Homo sapiens: one gene and its partner. The protein of the gene in region 2 interacts with the protein of the main gene of each other region in a pairwise test. Each region holds a gene or a part of one and is shown on either strand. Other genes may lie near its edges.

What was found.
Region 1: the proteins of ENG (region 2) and ITGA5 interact in binary tests that used the Homo sapiens proteins (3 or more experiments, as listed by UniProt).

What each region holds. Positions count from the first base shown.
Region 1 is NC_000012.12:54,393,056-54,405,112, forward strand, and holds the end of ITGA5 (integrin alpha-5 precursor), read right to left. Parts: intron 11,840-12,057; coding exon 11,648-11,839; intron 11,519-11,647; exon of another isoform or gene 11,443-11,518; intron 11,421-11,442; coding exon 11,375-11,420; intron 11,192-11,374; coding exon 11,090-11,191; intron 10,912-11,089; coding exon 10,856-10,911; intron 10,725-10,855; coding exon 10,570-10,724; intron 10,270-10,569; coding exon 10,132-10,269; intron 9,996-10,131; coding exon 9,928-9,995; intron 9,276-9,927; coding exon 9,125-9,275; intron 9,039-9,124; coding exon 8,946-9,038; intron 8,801-8,945; coding exon 8,721-8,800; intron 8,611-8,720; coding exon 8,530-8,610; intron 8,424-8,529; coding exon 8,318-8,423; intron 7,941-8,317; coding exon 7,791-7,940; intron 6,893-7,790; coding exon 6,809-6,892; intron 6,704-6,808; coding exon 6,590-6,703; intron 5,644-6,589; coding exon 5,542-5,643; intron 4,433-5,541; coding exon 4,310-4,432; intron 3,322-4,309; coding exon 3,238-3,321; 3' UTR 2,206-3,237; downstream 1-2,205.
Region 2 is NC_000009.12:127,851,659-127,858,741, forward strand, and holds the start of ENG (endoglin isoform 1 precursor), read right to left. Parts: upstream 3,001-7,083; 5' UTR 2,698-3,000; coding exon 2,631-2,697; intron 1,293-2,630; exon of another isoform or gene 1,220-1,292; intron 1,086-1,219; exon of another isoform or gene 1,027-1,085; intron 635-1,026; exon of another isoform or gene 545-634; intron 1-544. UniProt on the Homo sapiens protein: Vascular endothelium glycoprotein that plays an important role in the regulation of angiogenesis. Required for normal structure and integrity of adult vasculature. Regulates the migration of vascular endothelial cells.

The DNA of each region.
Region 1 (12,057 bases), on a different chromosome or scaffold from region 2:
ATCTCAGGGGATTGGCCTTGGGAGAGGATATGGGGTTTCTGGGTCCATCAGAGGAGGTCCTCCTGCTCTGGGTCTGACCTACCACCATGCTGGTCAACTCCAGTATGAAAAACCCTTGCTTCTCCTTAGACCCTGCACCTCCTTTCCTCTTCCCATTCTTTCTCCTCCTGGGTGGACTCAGAGACTAAACAAGAGCCATCATCAGGCATGGTCGATTGGTTTTAGAGACCCCTTTGCGCTCAGCTGTTGTCCACCCTGCCACACTGCCCCAGGGACTCTGGGTTAGGAAGATCTCAGAAGAGGGGTTGCTTAAGCTTACCAAGGGGAAGCAGCTGGCTAGAGGACGGGGTGACCTTGCAGGCAGCTGGGGTGGGGGGAAGGTGTGTGGGGTGAATTCATTATTGATGAGCCCTGCACCCCGGGCTACTAATGAGCCCAGGCCGGCTGCTCTAATTGATGTCAAGAAACTTGAGACCCCCAGATCAGCTTCCCGCCTGCCAGCTGCCTCTCCTGAGCCCCCTCCCCCTCCCTGCACCCCCAGCTGCTCTGTTCACTTCCTAAGGCCTCCTTTCCTTCTCCTTTTCATCTCCACCAACACAGACAAGGATAGGGCTCAGGCCTTCTAGCCCCCCTACACTTAAATTCGTCTGGATTATTCAAGTCTCAAGGTGGGAGCCACACTTCCTTCGGAGGGTTGGGAGATTTGGGAGAAGAAACTTAGACCAGGAGTCTGAGAATTAGAGCTCAGGGAAAGAGAGGCTCATACTAGATTACATCTGTGGCATTTCTGAGCTCAAGGAATTTCTTCCTTATATTGTGCATCCACGGGTAAGAACTTGTCACTCTCTCAAAAGTACAGGCCCTACACAGTGACACACCCATGACACCAGCCCAATTTTCACAGCCCACTTCCCTTCCTTATTTCCTCCTCACAACAGTGGAAGACATTTTAGGTCTGGCCCCTGGAGTTTGGCTGCTTCTACCCCCACCTCTCTCCCAAGAAGGGGACTCCTCTTAATGTATCAGGTATGGGATTTCCTCCCTCTAGAATTTCTGGTGCCTTGTTATGCCACGGCTGCCATTCTTAGAAATGCTAGGGGGTTCTTTGTCTCATCCTGTCTCTTCTACCCCATCAGCCCCTTTTCATTTGTGGGTTCTGTGAAGACATTCCTGACTCAGAGCATTCTAAGAAGTCACAGACTGGAGTGTGGTCCAGGGTTGGTCTCCCAGGAGGGATATTTTTAGGTGATGCAGGCCCTGCTAGGCAGAAGCCTGAGTTAATGAGAATAGTCCTGGTGATGGGGGAAGAGGGTGAGGTGGACCTCATACCCTACCTTCCCAAATTTCCCATAAATTTGTGGCTATGCTGCCCTCTGGTGGCTGAATTTTAGTCTATCCTGACAGGGACATCTTTGTCTCCAACAACCGCAATTGCTCTCCCTCTTGCTGCCCGTTAGGACAGGCCTTGAGGAGAAAAGAGAACCCTGAGGGTCCCTCACTTTGCGAGATTTATCTTCAAAGATCTGAACCCTGTGGCATGTTGGTTAAGAATTCGGGCTTTCCCAGCCAGATAAGGCTGAGTTTCACTCTGTTCTGCCACTCACTGTGTGACTTTGCACAAGTTATGTAACCTCTCTGGGCCTCAGTTTCTCTTTGTGTAAATGGGATAAATAGTACCAACCTCACAGAACTCTGTGAGAAATTAAATGTGATAATGTATGCAAACTAACACCCCCTACCAGCACACAGTAGCAATGAAAACAAAGCAATACAAAAACCTAACTGGGCTTTCTTCTAATTTAGTTCCGTGGCTTTTTCCTCTCAACTCATTTCATTATTCTGATTTAGGGAAGCCTGGTAAATTTTCTGAACCATCCTCCCCCACCTCCACCTTGGACCTCCCCCTTTGCATTCTGCTCTAATCCTCAAACCCAAAGAGAAGAGGTTCCTTTCCCTTCTCCCTTGGGAGTGTTGGGGACCAGGTCTGATGGGGGATGAGGGAGGGGCAGAGGAGTCAAGCCCTGCTTTCTCTCCTTCCATCACCTCTTTCACCTAAGAAGGGAGCCTAGAACTAGTTTCACAGTTTCTGGGGGGTCATACTTCTGGCTCCTAGTGGAAAGAAGCCATGAGAGAAATAGGCATCTGCTTTCCACCAAGTCGCTTGGTTCCAGGATGGGTTTGGAAAGAGTAACATGAGATCACAGATTCTAGTTCTGGTCAGTGGGGGCACTGGGTCAGATTTATTGCACTTGCAACAGAGTTTAAATAAGTCCTGGGTGTCTGGTGCCAAGGTGAGGGAAGGGTTGGGCAGAGAGATGAGGGGCAGCATCAGTGCAGCTGGCAGGCAGAACCCAAATTCTGCAGGCCCAGGACAGTGGGCTCCCCTTTCTCTGGGGAACAGGGAGGGCCTGTGTCTGGCCAGGCTGAGGTTCCAGATCTGTTGCCATCATGGCCCCTTCAGGGTCCTGGGAAATTCCTGGCTTCTCCTAAATCAGGGTGAACTGGGCCTCCAGGATCAGGTCTGGAGCAGGCCCAAATATAGTCCTGGATCTGCCTGGATTAGGTGCCAATGTCTGAGTCTGGGTTCCAGATCAACTCCAGACCCCAGGCTGGATCTGGCCCCATTTGAGTTCTGATTCCCCTTGGAGCTGGGCTCTGGGCCCTGGGCCAGCATCTATCCTTGTGTGGCATCTGTCCTGAGCTGGTCCTGGGGCACCATGCATAGTTAGTGTTCTTTGTTGGCCCACCAGGGTGGGGCTGTCCAGAGCTGCCAGGTCTTAACTCCCCAAGTTCCAGGTTCTTAGCTGGGGGCTTCTTTTGGATCTCTGGCAAGGCTGAGGACAGATCTTTGCAGGTTGGAGCTGGACAGGAAGTCCTTGTGGCATGTCTGGCCCAAAGAACTGTGAATGGATTTCCTAGTTATCTTTCCAAGTTGTTTCAGGAAACTCTCCAAAATGCAAAGGCTTCAGGGAGGCTGGGGCCTCTGTCCCTGGATCTGAGTTCCCCCATCCATGAAGAGGGTATGTGTAAACAAGGGTCCTTCACAGTGCATGGGGGGGAGGGATCCCCAGCTCCTCACCCCCCTGGCTCTGGCCCTTCAAGTATGTCTCTGGGCTGGGGAGAGGAGCTTCTCCCTGGCCGTCAGCACCTTCAAGAAGTACCCAGACCCCTCCTTTTCAGTAGAATGAGGGTGGGGGGACTGGTTCTTCAGGAATGGGAGTCTGAAATTGGGAGGACTCAGGCATCAGAGGTGGCTGGAGGCTTGAGCTGAGCTTTTTCCATGGCGGTGCCATATGGGAGGGAGCGTTTGAAGAATCCAAGCTGATAAAGGGGAAAAGAGGGAGAGTTTAGGTACTATGGCTGCCATTTCTCCACAGCTCTTATTCCAAGAAGTAATAAGGAGGACTCTAGTGCCTCCAACCTCTACATCCTGCAAAAGTGGCCTCTGAATTCAGGCTAGGACTACCCCTCTAAGTTGTGCAATGGACCCAGGAGGACCAAACTTGGGGGTGATTTTGTATGGGGGGTATCTTTTACCAGTGCCTTTAAAATTCCCCAGTTAAGCCAGAAATGGCAGATAGGTTTGAACTCAAATGCCAAGTCTGATTGCTTAGTAGTGGCTGCTTCTGTTTGTTTGTTTGTTTTTGAGACAGGGTCTCACTCTGTTGACCAGCCTGGAGTGCAGTGGCATGATCATGGCTCACTGTAGCCTCAAACTCCTGGGCTCAAGCGATCCTCCCACCTCAGCCTCCAGAGTAGCTGGGACTATAGGCACGCACCACCAAACCTGGCTAATCTTTGTGTTTTTTTTGTAGAGACAAGGTCCTAGTGTGTTACCCAGGCTGGTCTTGAATTCCTGGGCTCAAGCTGTCTTCCCACCCTGGCCTCCCAAAATGTTGGGATTACAGGTGTGAGCCACCACACCTGGCCATGGCTGCCTCTTGAGAGAGATTCTGAAGCCACTTCTAGGAGATGATCAGTAGCCATTTCTAGGTTAGTGATGGCTGCCATGGATTTTTGGAGAAATTGACAGCACAAATGCCACGTATTTGTCATCTTTGGGTTCCAATGATTTTGCAAGTATAGGCAAACTTATCATCTTGAGTCAAGAGGACCCTTTCTAAGCTAGGGGCTATAGAATGAAGGGGGGGATCTTATAGGAAGGGTTAGGATGGGATGCATGTAGCCAGGACAGAGGTGGGGGCACATGGCTGGTGAACTGGTCTAGAGGTAGATACTTGGGACTGTGCCAGGTCAAGGGCAGAGCCTGATGAGAGGGTGGCCAAGTCACAAGCAGGATGTGGCTGACCTTGTAGAGGATGTAGATGAGTAGACCTAGGAGCAGGAGGCCAAACAGGATGGCTAGGATGATGATCCACAGTGGGACGCCATAGCTGCCTTCTGCCTTGGTCCATTGCACAGCTGTGGCCACCTGGGGAGCAAGTTGGGTGAAGTCAATGAAAGCTCAGAAGTTCTTTCTACCCTATACTTGGCCCCCACTTGTCATTGGATCTGCAGAGCCCAGTGGGCTCCCCTTTCTCTGGGGAACAGGGAGGGCCTGTGTCTGGCCAGGCTGAGGTTCCAGATCTGTTGCCATCATGGCCCCTTCAGGGTCCTGGGAAATTCCTGGCTTCTCCTAAATCAGGGTGAACTGGGCCTCCAGGATCAGGTCTGGAGCAGGCCCAAATATAGTCCTGGATCTGCCTGGATTAGGTGCCAATGTCTGAGTCTGGGTTCCAGATCAACTCCACCTCTTATTTTGAACTAACAGCATTCTGAACTTAAAAATTGAAGTTCCTAAAATGTACAATATTGTCTCTTACTTTCGGGCTTTCATATCATATCCATTTTTTTTTTTTTTTGACAGAGTCTCACTCTGTCACTCAGGCTGGAGTGCAGTGGTGTGATCTCAGCTTACTACAACCTCTGCATCCTGGTCTCAAGCGATCCTCCTGCCTCAGCCTCCCGAGTAGCTGGGACCACAGATATGCGCCACCACATCTGGCTAATTTTTGTATTTTTTGTAGAGACAGGATCTCACTATGTTGCCCAGGTTGATCTTGAACTTCTGAGCTCAAGCAATCCACTTGCCTTGGCCTTCCAAAGTGCTGGGATTACAGGTGTGAGCCACTGCGCTCAGCCTCATATCTGTTATTCACCTCTCCCCAGGATATCCCTTTCCTGAATGGCTAGCCTGGTTAGTTCCTATTTATTCTTCAGGTCTCAGCTTGAACATCACTTCTTCCAGGAAGCCTTCCCTGACCCAGTTAGACTGGGTTCAGGTGTTCCTATTATGTGTTTTCATAAATATCACCACACTTGGAACACTGTGTTGTTCCACGAGACTGTGAACACCAGGAGCAAAGATACCATGTTGATCTTGCTTACCACTCTGTCTCTGGCATCTGCACAGTGCTTGGCACATAGTACATTCTCAACAGTTGTTAACAATACCAAGGCCAGCCCTCACCCAAGTCCCAGCCCTGTTCCAGCACTCTGAGCCCTGTATTCCCTCATCCAGTCCTCTGGCCCTAGACTCACCTGACGCTCTTTTTGGGGCAGCTGCCGAGGCAGGATTCGGTAGGGCATCTTCAGGGCTTTGTACACAGCCTCACACTGCAGGCTAAATGGCTGGTGCTCCCGCTGTGGGTAGGGGAAAGTTGGTTAGCACATCCTCTCTTGGGATCCAGAGGACATAGGGTTCCCCATCGTCTGGCTGGGGTTGTGATCTTTCCCTATTTTGGGCTCATTCTTCCTGAGTCTCTCTCTCTCTCTCTCTCTTTTTTTTTTTTTTTTTTTTTTGAGACTAGGTCTCACTCTGTCCCCCAGGCTGGAGTGCAGTGGTGTGGGCTTAGGTCACTGCAACCTCCACCTCCTGGGCTCAAGCAATCCTCCTGCCTCAGCCTCCCAAGTAGCTGAGACTACAGGCATGTGCCATCATGCCCAGCTAATTTTTGTTTTGTTTTGTTTTTGTAGAAGTGGAGTTTTGCCATGTTGCCCAGGCTGGTCTCAAACTTCTGGGCTCAAGGGATCCGCCAACCTTGGCCTCCCAAAGTGCTGGGATTACTGGTGTGAGCCACTGTGCCTGGCCCGTGAGCTTCTCTTGATGTTCCTTATATGAGATAATAAATGTGTAACTGAATAATTGTAACTTGATAATATATAATTAGATGACTACGTGTTCAATAAAAATTTTTTTAAAATTATTAATGTGCTTTGACACCAGGACAGTGCCTAGCCTGCAGTGTGTGCTCAAGAAGTGACTGCTCTTTACTATTCCTACATGTGTTTACCTCTCCACTATGGATTCATCTTCCATCTTACTGTTTTTCTATCATTCTTTGCACACTGGTCTCCCTCCAGCCCTCCCTCCTCTGAATGGGCCAGGAAAGGGAAGCTGCTGCTCCCACTGTGGCCACTAGATGGCGCCAAGGACATACAGCCTGGTCTAGACAAGGGCAAGGAAGGGGAGCTGGAGTGCTGGGTCCCATTCACCAAAGGAGAGGTGGCTACTGCAGTGGAGAAAGGGGTGGGTCAGTCTAAGCAGGCCCAAAGGTCAGGGGTCAGGGCTGAGGTAAGGCTCCCTCACCTGCAAGAAAGTCTTGGCCCAGACTCGGAAATGCAACTGCAGACTTTGGCTCTCTTGTTGGTGCAGGGGCCCGAGCTCACAGCGCAGCCTGAAACACTCAGCCTCCGGGCATTTCTAGGAAGAAAGAAGCTTGAACCTGGTGTTCTGCCCTTGTGATGGCCCTGAGAACCCCAGAGTACTCAACACTTTGGTCCACACCTCATTCCCTGCCTGACTTACCAGGATCTGAGGTCCCGAGGAAGCAGAGCTGCGGCTTGGAGCTTCCCGTTTTTGCTGGTGGTGCAGGGAACCCTCGGGATCCAACTATAAAAGAAAGTGTTGGGCCCCTTTCCCATCTCATTACAGCTTCTAAGTCAGCTTGCACCTGGGTTCCAGAGCAGCTTCAACCTATTCTTTCATCTATCTCTTTATTGATTCATCCAACTGTCCACCTCCTATGCGCAAGGCACTGAGCTCAGGGTTAAAATATGGAAATGAGGAAAACTTGGTTCTTGGAGATCACACTGGAGGAGATGCTTAAGTAAATAATTAGGTCTGTGTTCCTGTTTTTGCACTGGATGTTCCCTTGGTTTGGAATGCTCATCCCTGAGTCTTATAGACAGGTTCAACCTTATCTTTCAGGCCTCAGTTCAGCTGTGACGTCTTCAAGAGGTTTTTCTATGATCCAATTTAAATAGTGTCCCTACAGCTTATTAACTCTTCACTTCATCACCTTTCAATCCCTGTTAATTTTTCTCCTTCTCTTTTTCTTTTCTATGTCTATCACCCTTCACTAGAATGTAAGTTCCATGAACGTGGAGACCTTGTCAGTTCTGTTTGGTGCAATATTTCCTGGGCCTAACAGTGTTCAGTACAGTCACTTATTTAATTAGATGTTAATGAGTAAATGAACTATAAAACAGGCATTCGGGCCCAGAGGAAAAGGTTTGAAGAAGGCTTCCTAGAGGAGGTGGCACATAACTGGGCCCTAGGGGTATGCCGGGAAACAAAGAAGGGATAGTTCAGGCAGAAAGAAACACAGTGGATGAAAGTCCTTTTTCCTCCAGAGGATTTTGAGGTAACTTTGGGCCTTGTGACCCTCAACCCTAGCTATAGGCACATCCTCATTGCCTCTTGCAGGCCCCCAGCAACCTTCCCCAACCCCTCAGCCTTGGTCCTCTGAATCTGCTCCTCTTCCCCATGCCAGTGTTCAGGATCTCACCTCCAGGCCCTTTGGGTTAATGGGGTGATTGGTGGTGCAGTTGAGTCCCGTAACTCTGGTCACATATAGGAGCTGCTGACCTTCCAGAGCCTGGGGACAGCTGAGTTCCAGCACACCCTGGCTAATGGAGCTGGGGCCTTGGTTGATGAGCTGAGGAGGGAAGAGCACAATCATCATGAGAAGGAAGGGAATGCTTCTGCCCCATTGAGACCCTGGATCACCATGGCTCCACTATACCCTGCTGTCAGGCTCCTATCTCAGAGATGAAGCAGGGAAGCAATGGGCAGAGGTGAAATCCTCTCTAGCCAACACTTTTGGAGGGGGCTCCATCTTTCTTTCCAAGCCACTCAATTGGCCTGTCTCTCCTCTGGCTGTTTCTCACAGGACTCTGCCTCATGCCTTTGCATATCACTTACTCCTCCCTCCTCTCTTTCTCTCAGTCCCTCACATGGGTTCCAGCCATCTGTCACTCATATTAGCTCCTCCTTTCCCATCATTCATTCTGGCCCTGCCCCTTCCCCCCTTACCTCATAGACATGGTGGACAGCAGGTCCCAGGTCCTCCTCCTTCTGAGGCTGGTCTCGGGGATGCCAGTCGCTTACTGGGAATAGCACTGCCTCAGGCTTGGAGACACTAAGGAGGAGGGTGGTTTAGAGGAGGGTGGAAGGAACCCCATATGCATCCTTCCCTAGAAGTCTGTGTCCCCTCTCAGAAAGACCCCATTTTGCCTGGCACTGACCCGTTCAGGGTGACCTGGGCCTGAGCCTCCACGGAGAGCCGAAAGGAAACCACGTCGCTTTGCGAGTTGTTGAGATTCTTGCTGTGGGATGGAGGCAAGACTGAGGTGCTGGAGTGCAGCCAGTGAGAATGGCGCCCAGCCCTCCCTTCCGTCCCCAGCTCAGCCCCAGCCTAGACACACTCACTCCCTACCTGAGGATCTGGAAGTCAAACTGGATGGTTTTCTTAGTGTCCCGGAGATGAGGGACTGTAAACCGAAGGCCACCCCACAGCTGGGGACAGAAAAAGAGGAAAAGAGGGCAGTTAGACTGTGTATTTCACCCTCCCTCCGCACCTCACAGCTGTGCTCTCGGCTGGCTGGTTACCGCCCTCAGGTCTGCTCTCCCTCTGTCCCATCCTCTTTCATCCCAAACTTACACTGGCTCCTGCCTTCATGGGGTTGCCCAGGTCACACACCAGCAGGCGGCTCTGGTTCACGGCAAAGTAGTCACAGCTCAGGCTGGAGAAGTTCTGGAGATGGGGTGGGCACTGGTCAGGTTTTGGTGTCCCCTCTAGAGGGGTATCCTCCCAAATCCCACTCGAGAGTCTCATCTCACCCCTGGGTGTCTGACGAGTCCTGAGTACTCAGCCTCTGGAGGGGCGGTGACCCGAAGCTCAGCCTCATAGGCGCCACCCTCACCCACATTCTGGGCATGGAAAGTGAGGTTCAGGGCATTCTTGTCACCCAGGTACACATGGTTCTGCTCCCTGGAAGGGACACAGAGGGTAAGGGACATTGGTGAATTAATCCTCAAACCAGGACAAAGGACCATTATAAGAGTAGTAATACGAGGCCGGGTGTGGTGGCTCACACCTGTAATCCCAGCACTTTGGGAGGCTGAGGCGGGTGGATCACGAGGTCAGGAGTTCAAGACAAGCCTGGCCAAGATGATGAAACCCTGTCTCTACTAAAAATAATAATAAAAAAATTAGCCCGGCATGGTGGCAGGCACCTGTAATCCCAGCTACTTGGGACGCTGAGGCAGAGAATCGCTTGAACCTGGGAGGCGGAGGTTGCAGTGAGCCGAGATTGCGCCACTGCACTCCAGCCTGGGTGACAAGGGCATGACTCCGTCTCAAAAAAAAAAAAAGAGTAATAATAAAGTAACAATAGACACTGCTTACTGAGTTCTAACTCTATGGCAGGCACTAGGCTAGATTTTTTATGTAGATTATTTCATTTAATCTTTCCAAAAAGTCTGAGAAATAAATGCTACTATTCCCACTATACAGACAAAGGAGTTAAAGCTCAGAGCAGCTCAGCAACTTCCCAAGGCGACACAGCTAGTATGTCCCTAGCTGATTTTTTCAGGTGCCAGGTGCACCTGGAGCTCCCTAGCTTACCGTCAGCCCTACTTACCCAAACACTTCCAGCTGCAGGTCAGGCACACAGATGTTGTCTTCTCCACAGTCCAGCAAGATCTGAGCCTGGGGAGCAGGGCAGCCTTGAGAGGGGAAGTTTAGACCCATTCCTGGGCTGTAGGCTCTTCTCTTTCCATGGCCCTGCCCCCCCAATACCCAGGCCTCTGTCTTCCCAGGTCCCTTCTCCCTGCCCTGTCCTCACCTTGTCCTCTATCCGGCTCTTGCTCTGATAATGTAGGGCTGGCCTGAGGCCGTGGCTGTCCACTGGGGCTTGGGGGTCCAAGGAGAAGTTGAGAGCGATGTGAATCGGCGAGAGTTTGTCTCGAAATTCTGACTCGTTCTGGGGCCAGAGGAGAGAGTTCACGGAGTCAGGGGACTCTGGAGACTTAGTGGCCCTGCTCCTCAGCCTCTCTCATCTCCCTTTGTCTGCTTAGGGCCCAATTCCGACCATCCTCATTGTTTCAGAGGCCCTGGCAGCCTGCTTCCCAGCTCCTCTGACAGAAGGTCTCCCTTTCTCAGCCCCTACAAGAGTCCCAAGCCCTTCACTGGAGTCCCCCAGTCTTTTTCCCTTCAGGAGGTGCCCTCAGTTCTGTGTGGCCACCCTCCCTGGCCAGTCCACACCCCGCCCTCTGGGCCATACCCTGAGGTAGATCTTCATCTCTCTGCAATCCTCTCGAGCCCCATTCTGGATGAGCAGGGTCTGGGTCAGGGTTGCCTGCCTGGAGGCCAGGAACAGTGCCCGCCGTACCCCTCCCTTCTGCTTCTGCCAGTCCAGCTGAAGTTCCACTGTGAAACCTGAAGCCAGGGACATATAAAGGGAAACTGCCTGTCTTTCCTCATCTTTTCAGAGAGAAGAAATGTCCCCAGGTCCCCAGTCCCTTCATTCTCTGTCCTAGGGCCTGAGAGATCCAGGCAGTCTCCCTCACCAATGGAGTCAGCAACGTGTTTTCCAGAAGCATTGAGGCAGAAGCTAAGGTTGATGCTGGAGAGAGACCAAGAAGAAAGCTGGTGAATCCAACTGGAACAGACATCCTATCCTCTACCTATCTCCCAGCCAGACCCAGACTAGGACACCACCATTTTCCCCTTTTTAAGGCAGACTTGGTGCCCCTGCCCACTCCCAGGCTCAGGTCTCTGCAATTTCCTGGGCACCAGCTCACCAGGCCACAGGGTTCCCCTCTAAGCTGCAGCTCCGCTCCTCTGGGTTGAACATGGCGGGGAAGATGGTGAGGGAGGCACTAGCGGACACGATGGGGCGGCCCCTGCCAAGAGTGAATGTGGGGTCAATAGAATTAGGACTCCTCTGTAACCTGGACACAGGAAACTGATGCCCAAGCGCCAGAATGTGTGTCCTCTGCATTGATTTTCCCAACCTCAGCTCTGTTGAGAAATTTCCAGTTCCAGTCCACCCAGGTTGTCCCCTCATCTCCCTTTGGAGCTCATACCTGTATACCACAGCCTTGTCCACACCAAAGGACCCCACAATCAGATCTGTAAGAAGTCAAGAAATCACCTCTTACAGCAAGCCCCAGATCAGGATCCTTTCTTCCTAACCCCTCCTGGTTTCAACGCTCAGGGAGGTTGAAGTGAGAAGACAGCGCCCTCTGTTGGAATTAGCCAGAACTGCACCCAGGAACTTAAGGAAAGGTGCAGAAGAGAGAGTAGGGGTCAGTGACCAGGGAATTTTAAGGTGAAAAGGGGCCTCAGGCACAACTCACCAGGATATCCATTGCCATCCAGGTCTCGGCCTCCTCGAAGGGCAGAGCCAAAGAAGTCTGGGGTGTGGCTGGCTGCCCACAGGGGCTGCAGAACCTGGGAAGGCTTAGAGCCCAGCCCTCCTGGGCCCCCAGGAAATACAAACACTACTCCCTGCTGGGTCTCCCCACCAAAGGGAGCCCCGATGGCCACATCTGGAAGACACAGAACACACACTAGTCAGCAGGCCAGGAATCCATGGGCTCTAATCTCTACTACCAGACCCCAGGACCTAGGATCCTATTTTTTCCCATCTGTCAGTCCCTATATTCTAATCTTCAAATCCCAAGACCCAGACAGTGGGATTTTAACCCCTCGGGAAGTCGTGGAGGTCTGGGTATCTTAGCTGACAGATGCCCTCTCCCCAAATCCC
Region 2 (7,083 bases):
TCACGAGGTCAAGAGTTCGAGGCCAGCCTGGCCAACATGGTGAAACCCCGTCTCTACTAAAAATACAAAAATTAGGCGGGTGTGGGGCCGGCGCCTGTAGTCCCAGCTACTCGAGAGGATGAGGCAGGAGAACTGCTTGAACCCGGGAGACGGAGGTTGCAGCGAGCCTAGATTGTGCCATTGCACTGCAGCCTGGGTGACAAGAGCAAGACTGTCTCAAAAAAATTTAAAAAAGAAAGTGAAAGTCCCACAGAGAAAACCCCAGACCAGAGAACAGTAATAGTGGGTTAAATAGAAAACTCTATTCCAGAATTTTCTCTGTGCATATTGTACATTATTACTATTTTATTGTTGCCAAAATGGAATTATTGTTGTTTGGGCACCTAACAGTGTGTCCCTGACATCCGTCCATGGCAGTGTTCATATGACTCTGCCTTCTTGGTGCCTGCTGCATGACATTCCGTCGTGTGGTAATTTATTAACAGTCTTTGCTCATGGACACTTAGATGATTTCCAGTTATCGGGTTTTTGTTACAGGTACCCACGGACCACGCATCTTTACAGAGTTGGACGAATAACTTTAGAAGGCTGACTACTGAAGGCTGATTTGTGAGGGTATCAAGTCACATGCAAGGTACAGTTTTAGGAGATTCTTACAAGTGGTGCCCCCAAATTCTAGACCCATTTCTAGGAGGTCAGGGTCACTCCGACCCCTACCCCCAGCTGGCTTCCAGGCCCTGGCCCCAGGCTCCCCTCTGCCTTCCATGGGCCTCAGCTTCCCAGACCATAAATGAGTTGGGTTGATGGTCTGTTGTACCTTTGAGCCTGTGACTCCTGGTGCACTGGGACCAGCTCCTACCTGCTCACAGGAACAGACGGATACGTTTCCAGGAGTTTTTCCAACTGGCTGTTACATAGCTATTACTATATATTTTTAAAAGGTCATGAATGTCCAAACTCATTTCTTTCTAATCGTTTTACACCCCTGACTGTCATCTCTGCTCTCGGTGTGATCTGCGCCTGCAGAGACTCTGGAGAACCAACCGCCAGGTGCTACCGGGCACTGATTCCCAGCTCCAAACTTGGTGAGTTGGTGGCTTGAAGTCAGCCGGGTGGGAGTACTTACGCTGTGAAAATCCACAAACGCTACAAATTGAGCTCCCCACCCCGTTGTTAATTATTCAGCAGCATATCACTGCCTTTGATCCTTTAAAACCAGGCCCTAAATGTCTGCATGGACCTTTCTCTAACGACCAAGAGGAAGAGAGTGTTACTGCAGCGACAAATACGAGAGAGGGAGATCTTGGAGCTCAGGTAGGGGCTCCGTCTTAGCCATGTGAACTTGGCAGGTTAGAGCCTCCCTTTTCTCTTCTGTAAAATGGGGATGATGATGGCAGCCATCTTGCAGGGTCGTTGTGAGCCGCATTAAGAGGGTTCGCCCTATCACACCTTACTAGGAGCAAACATTTAGGGAGCCGCAGGCCGGGAGTCAAATCCCTGCTAAGTCACTTAATATGTCTGAGACTCAGTTTCCTGTCAATCAGGTGGTGGGCAGAGCTTTAGAGACCCAGAATCAGGGACTCTAAAATGCCATCAGGTGGGGAGGTGGGGAGAAGTTGGCTGCCCCACCGCTGTTTTCCTTCCCCTTCCTCCCCACACTCTCAGCTCATTTCTGCCCCTCTTCCCCCAAATCTGTCAGGAAGCCCCTGGATGCACAGGTGGGTCAAAGGATGTCCACAGGACCGGCCAGCGGCTTGAGGTGGCCGAGGGATAGGGAGTGGGACATGGGGCTGGGGGTCCCTTGCTCCTCACCGCCCCTCCTCTGGTCAGTTTCAGAAAGCAGCAGAGGCCATGACCCCTTGGAAGAGCCCCCAGGCCAAGGAGCCCCACAGAACCCCTAACCTGGCCTGCACCCACTCCTGCACCCTTTCTGGGGATCAGGGAGGTAGGAGGGAGGCAGGGCAGGGCCCTGCAGCCTTGGCCTGTTCAAAGGGTTTGAGGAGCTGCCCAAAGGCCCTGGGGAAGGTGAGCTGGAGGAACTTAAAGCTAAAAATAAAACAACACAGAAGTGGCCAGTCTGCCAGAGCCCTCTCTGCAATGATCCCTCACCACCCACCTCCTCAGCAGCTCTGAGAGGGAAGTCTGTTCTCTTCCCCACTTCGCTCAGAGGCCCGAAGGCAGTCCCCCAGGATCACACCACAAGGAAGTGCCTATGTGAGATTTGAACCCAGAGACGGTGCTCAGAGCCCAGGCTGTGGGCCCTCCTTCCCATCCATTCCTCATGGGGAAACTCAAGGCCCAGAGAGGCCAGGAAACTCTCCCGTCGCTGCACAGCATTCTGGGACCTAGGCTTCCCGGGGAGTAATGGAACGCAGCTGGGTGAGCAGACGCCAGAGACCAGGGTTAAAGTGAAAGAGTCAGCCCAGTTTGCCCGAGGCTTTCTTTCAACACTGAAAGTCCTGCATAACCATTTAGTTCCAGCAAACTGGGAGGGTTGGTGACCCTCCAGAGCCCCAAGGATGGCTCTGCTGGGCGTGAGCTCAGGATACAGGAAGGAGGCCGGGAATACTTGGGGCCTGGTCCGTGCACCGGAGGCCGAGTCTCCCCACCCTGGGTCCCTGGACACCTACTTGTGGGGCTGAGGCTGCAGCTGGCCAGCAGCAGGGCAACAGCCAGAGGGAGCGTGCCGCGGTCCATGCTGTCCACGTGGGGGCCTGTGCGCTGGGCCTTATCCTGTGTCCAGTGGCAGGGCTGCGGGCGGGCACCGGGGCCGGCGTGGGCTCGCACGGGGACCCGAGGGGAGCAGGCGGCCGGAGCGACGGCGTCCCTGCTCCAGCCTTCTGGGGTGGCGGCCGAGGGGTCAGGAGAAGTGGACACAGGGACGCGGGGCTGGGCTGGAGTTGCTGTCCGAAGGATGGGCGGGGAGGGGGTGCTGGGCTCCAATGGATGGCAGTGACAGCAGCAGTCCTGGCCCCAGGGCGCAGATGAAGGCTGTGGTATGACCGGCAGCAGGGAGCTCCTGGCTCATCCAGCCCGGCCGGCCCAGGGAGGCAGGAAATGCGCTTCCTTAGAGAAGGGGCTGGGCCAGGCCGCCTGCCAACCGGGTAGAGGAAGTGCCACGGGCTTTGTCACTGGGTGGGGGGCCCTGGGATGGGGGGAGGCAGTGGGGTGGGAGGGCCCAGGCTCTAGGCTTGTCTCCCCAAGCACCCCACCCTCCCATCCCACCCTCTCCAAGGCTGGTGGGTGGGACGCATCAGGGAGCCCCACAGATGAAAACAATCACCCTAACAGCCCACCGAGGGGAACTTTCAGGGGGCCGGTCTTGGCTAAAGTAGTTCCTGTAGAATTTGTGACCCACCTGAGCTCACTGATCCCATTTTGCAGATGAGGAAACAGAAATCCGATGTGTTGAGATCACTGGTTCAAGAAGATGGTAGCGCTGGGATCCTGCCCACCTCCACCACTTCACGTCTTGTCGGGCATCAAACCCGGCCTACTAAGTGCAGTTGACATGGGGCTGCCTAACAGGCAGGAAAACTGAAGCTCAGGCTAGGGAGGGAAGTCCCAAAGTGGCACAGCAAGGCGGCTAGGGCTGGCGTCTCTGGGCTCAGAGGAGCTGCCCAGGGCCACACACTTCACGTCTGACCCCTTCATGGGTGGAAAATCCTTCACCGACAAAACACAGCTCCAGGCCGAGTGTAGTGGCTCAAGCCTATAATCCCAGCACTTTGAGAGGCCGAGGCAGACGGATCACTTGAGGTCAGGAGTTCGAGACCAGCCTGACCAACATGGTGAAAACCCATCTCTACTAAAAATACAAAAGTTAGCTGGGCATGATGACGTGCGCCTGTAGTCCCAGCTACTTGGGAGGCTGAGGCTAGAGAATCACTTGAACCTAGGAGGCGGAGGTTGCAGTGAGCTGAGATCAGACCACTGCACTCCTGGCCTAGGTGACAGAGTGAGGCTCGGTCTCAAAAAAAAGAAAAGAAAAAAAAAAAGAAGACAGCTCCAAATTATGGGGACTTTAATGGCACTTCTGAAGTCACGTGGCCCTGGGTTCAAATCCGATTCTGCTTGCTCCTAGCCATGAGACCTTGGACAAGGCCCCTCAATTCTCAGCACCCCCTGTTTGCAAAGTGGGGCACGATGCCTTCCTGACCAAGCCATTATGAGATTTCTGAGGGTCAGGACACTACAGCACTGAGCCCTGGGACATACAGGAGATGCTTCCCCATCAGTGCTCCCTGAGCTGGGTGACAGTCCCCAAACTGTCCCATGTTCATTCTGCAAACAGTAAGCGCACCTACTATGTACCCACCGTGGGACTACTCACAGGTAGCACCCAGGGCCAGGCCCATGAAAGCTCAGAGAAGGAATCCTGGGCCACCTGGAGGGCCTGGTATTTAGGCCTGCCCTTTGAAAGACTGGGTGAGTTGGGATTGGGGAGAAGAAGGGGTGAGGAAAGCATGCCAGGCAGGGGTGCCAGACTAAGCAAAGGCACAGAAGCAGGAAACAGTCGGACCACCGTGAGACCAGCAGGGGTGTGGTGGGGACAGGAAGCTGGAGAGGCAGAGTCTGGCCCTGCATTGGGAGGGCCTCAAATGCCAGGACTTTGTCCTTAGGGCCACTGGGAGTCATGGAGAGTTCTTGAGCAGAAGGACGCTGGCAGAGCTAGGCTTTGAGAGGCCAAATCTTTGTGTGTGCTGGCAGGACCCACGGTGAGATGGAGCCAGAAGGTTCTTCTCCCTGGATCCACCTGCCCTGGGTCACAGGTGGAGAAATTGAGGCCCAGGGAGGGAGGAGAAGGCTGAGGCCCTGGGTGCCTCTGGAGGGAGGATGTCTGTCCAGGGTCTGAGGCCTTGCCTCTCCGTGCTTATTGGCCGGCCCGGGTGACAAGAGTAGGCCGTGTGTTTGTCTCTGCAGGAGCTGTCACAGCGGCTGGGAGGGTCGGTGTGGCTCTTTGGGTGGGGATTAGGGATAGTTTTGCTTGCCCAGCCTTGTGGCTGCCTGGCCAGTTTGCAGCCAAGCGTGGCTTTGAGGTCAAGGGAGAGTGTCCTCTCCCAGAGGGCCACCCTGAGAAGGGCATCTCCTCTGCCTTTTCCTGTAACCTCGGAGACAAGGCCATGGGCACTGCGAGGCAAAGGGTGGCTCGGTGGGGGTTCAGGGGTGGCTCTGAGGTTTCCACAGGCCCCAGACCGAGATCTGTGCCCCAGGGACAGTTAATCCAGCCCTAGGAGCTGAGCGCTCTCTCTGCACCAGGGCCCGCCCTAGGCGTTCACCTTATCAGCTCTGAATCCTCACAGCCACCCCAGGAGGTGGGTACCGTTATACCTCCACTTTACAGAGGAGGAACCCCAGCTGGAGGGTGGTGACCCCAGGGCTGCCTGGGTCCAAGCTCACCTCCTTCCCTGCCACCATCCCCTGAGCTGAGTTTGGAGTGAGGGACAGATGTGGCAGGGGCTGCAGGTATCACAGGGTGTTGGGGGCATCTGGGGCAGTGACAGGGACCCCACAGGAGGCTCTTCCCAAAACTCCCTCCCTCCCCTTCCCTCCACGCTGCACAGTCTGTCCCCATCCACGTTGTAAACAAGACCCAATGGATTCTCTAGAAAGTAGGAGAGACTCCAGATGGACTCCAGGAAGAACTGGGGCCCCGACCCCAGACACCTCATGGAGGAAGGAAGAGATTGGGACCACCGCGGGTGGGGGGTGAAGCGGAAGTCACCTCTGGCTCCCACAGCATCCTGACCTTCCCTGTCACACCTAAGCCTGTGTGCAGCCATCTGCATGTATCTCTCTACTTGATTAGAAGCCCCATGAAGGCAGAGACTTTGACACCCTTTGCACTGCTGTGTCCCCAGCACAGAGCCCAGGGCCTTTCAGCTCTTGAGATGGATTTGCTGAAAGCATGAGGGACCCTAGAAGTCAAGGCAGGGGTGGGGGTCATGGAGGCCCAGAGAAGTGGGCCTTGTCATTGGTTCCCAGGAGAAAAGGCCAGTCCTGGACTGGGTCTCCTGCCCGAGGAAGCCTGGTGGCCACATGGCCTCCCTGCTGGGCACAGGCCTTGGGGTAGCTGTCTTCTACATCCCCCAGCTGCACTCTCCCTCTTGTGGGACACATCCACTTCCCCACCCCTGCAGAGGTCAGAGGAGGCAGGAGGAGGAGGGTCCGTCTTCCAGCCCCTTCCCTGCAGGGTCACTGCATACTGGTGGCCTCCCTCCACTGAAGGCCACGGTCCTGTTGGGGACCCCCTCCACCCAGCTCTGTCCAGCTGTGGACTCAGCTCCTCCCCTGGCCTCTTCAGGCTGAGGGTGGTCACAGCCCACGCCGCTGCCAGCCCTGGGGTTCTGCACCGTCCCTTGGGGCTTCCCTACACCCCGACCACACCTGTGTAAACAGACCCTTCACCAAACTCTCCTCTAATGATCCTACTGGAACGTGCCATCTGTTTCCTGCCGGGGCTTTGACTGATACGGATGTGTTCAGGTGCCGTCTGTCCACACGCCCGAGAGACGCGTGGCTGATGGCCAGGCCCCTGTGCCTGGACCCCACAGAGGGCAGATGCACACTTTCTGCTCTTTCTTCCTCCTGGCTGGCCAGGAAGGCCAGGGCTGCAGGAAAAGACAGAGCACGTCCACCCTGGCCACTGGCCACTGAAGGAATTTCAGGCGGCCCCCAGGGACCCACCAGGCGGCTGACTGTCTCCAGCACTGGCCTGGAGCCAGGGGCCATTGATAACAGCAGGGCCAGACCCACAGGGCGGAGCAGGGTGCCCAGGCTCTGCCCTACACTGGCCAGGTGGCATCAGGCAGGATCTTTGTTTGTTTGAGACAGAGTCTCACTCTGTCACCCAGGCTGGAGTGCAGTGGCATGATCTTGGCTCACTGCAACTTCCGCTTCCTGGGTTCAAGCAATTCTCCTGCCTCAGCCTCCCGAGTAGCTGGGAACATGCACCATCACACCCGGCTAATTTTTGTACTTTTAGTAGAGACGGGATTTCACCATGTTGCCCAGGCTGGTCTTGAACTCCTGACCTCAAGTGATCCACCCGCCTTACCCTCCCAAAGTGCTGGGATTACAGGC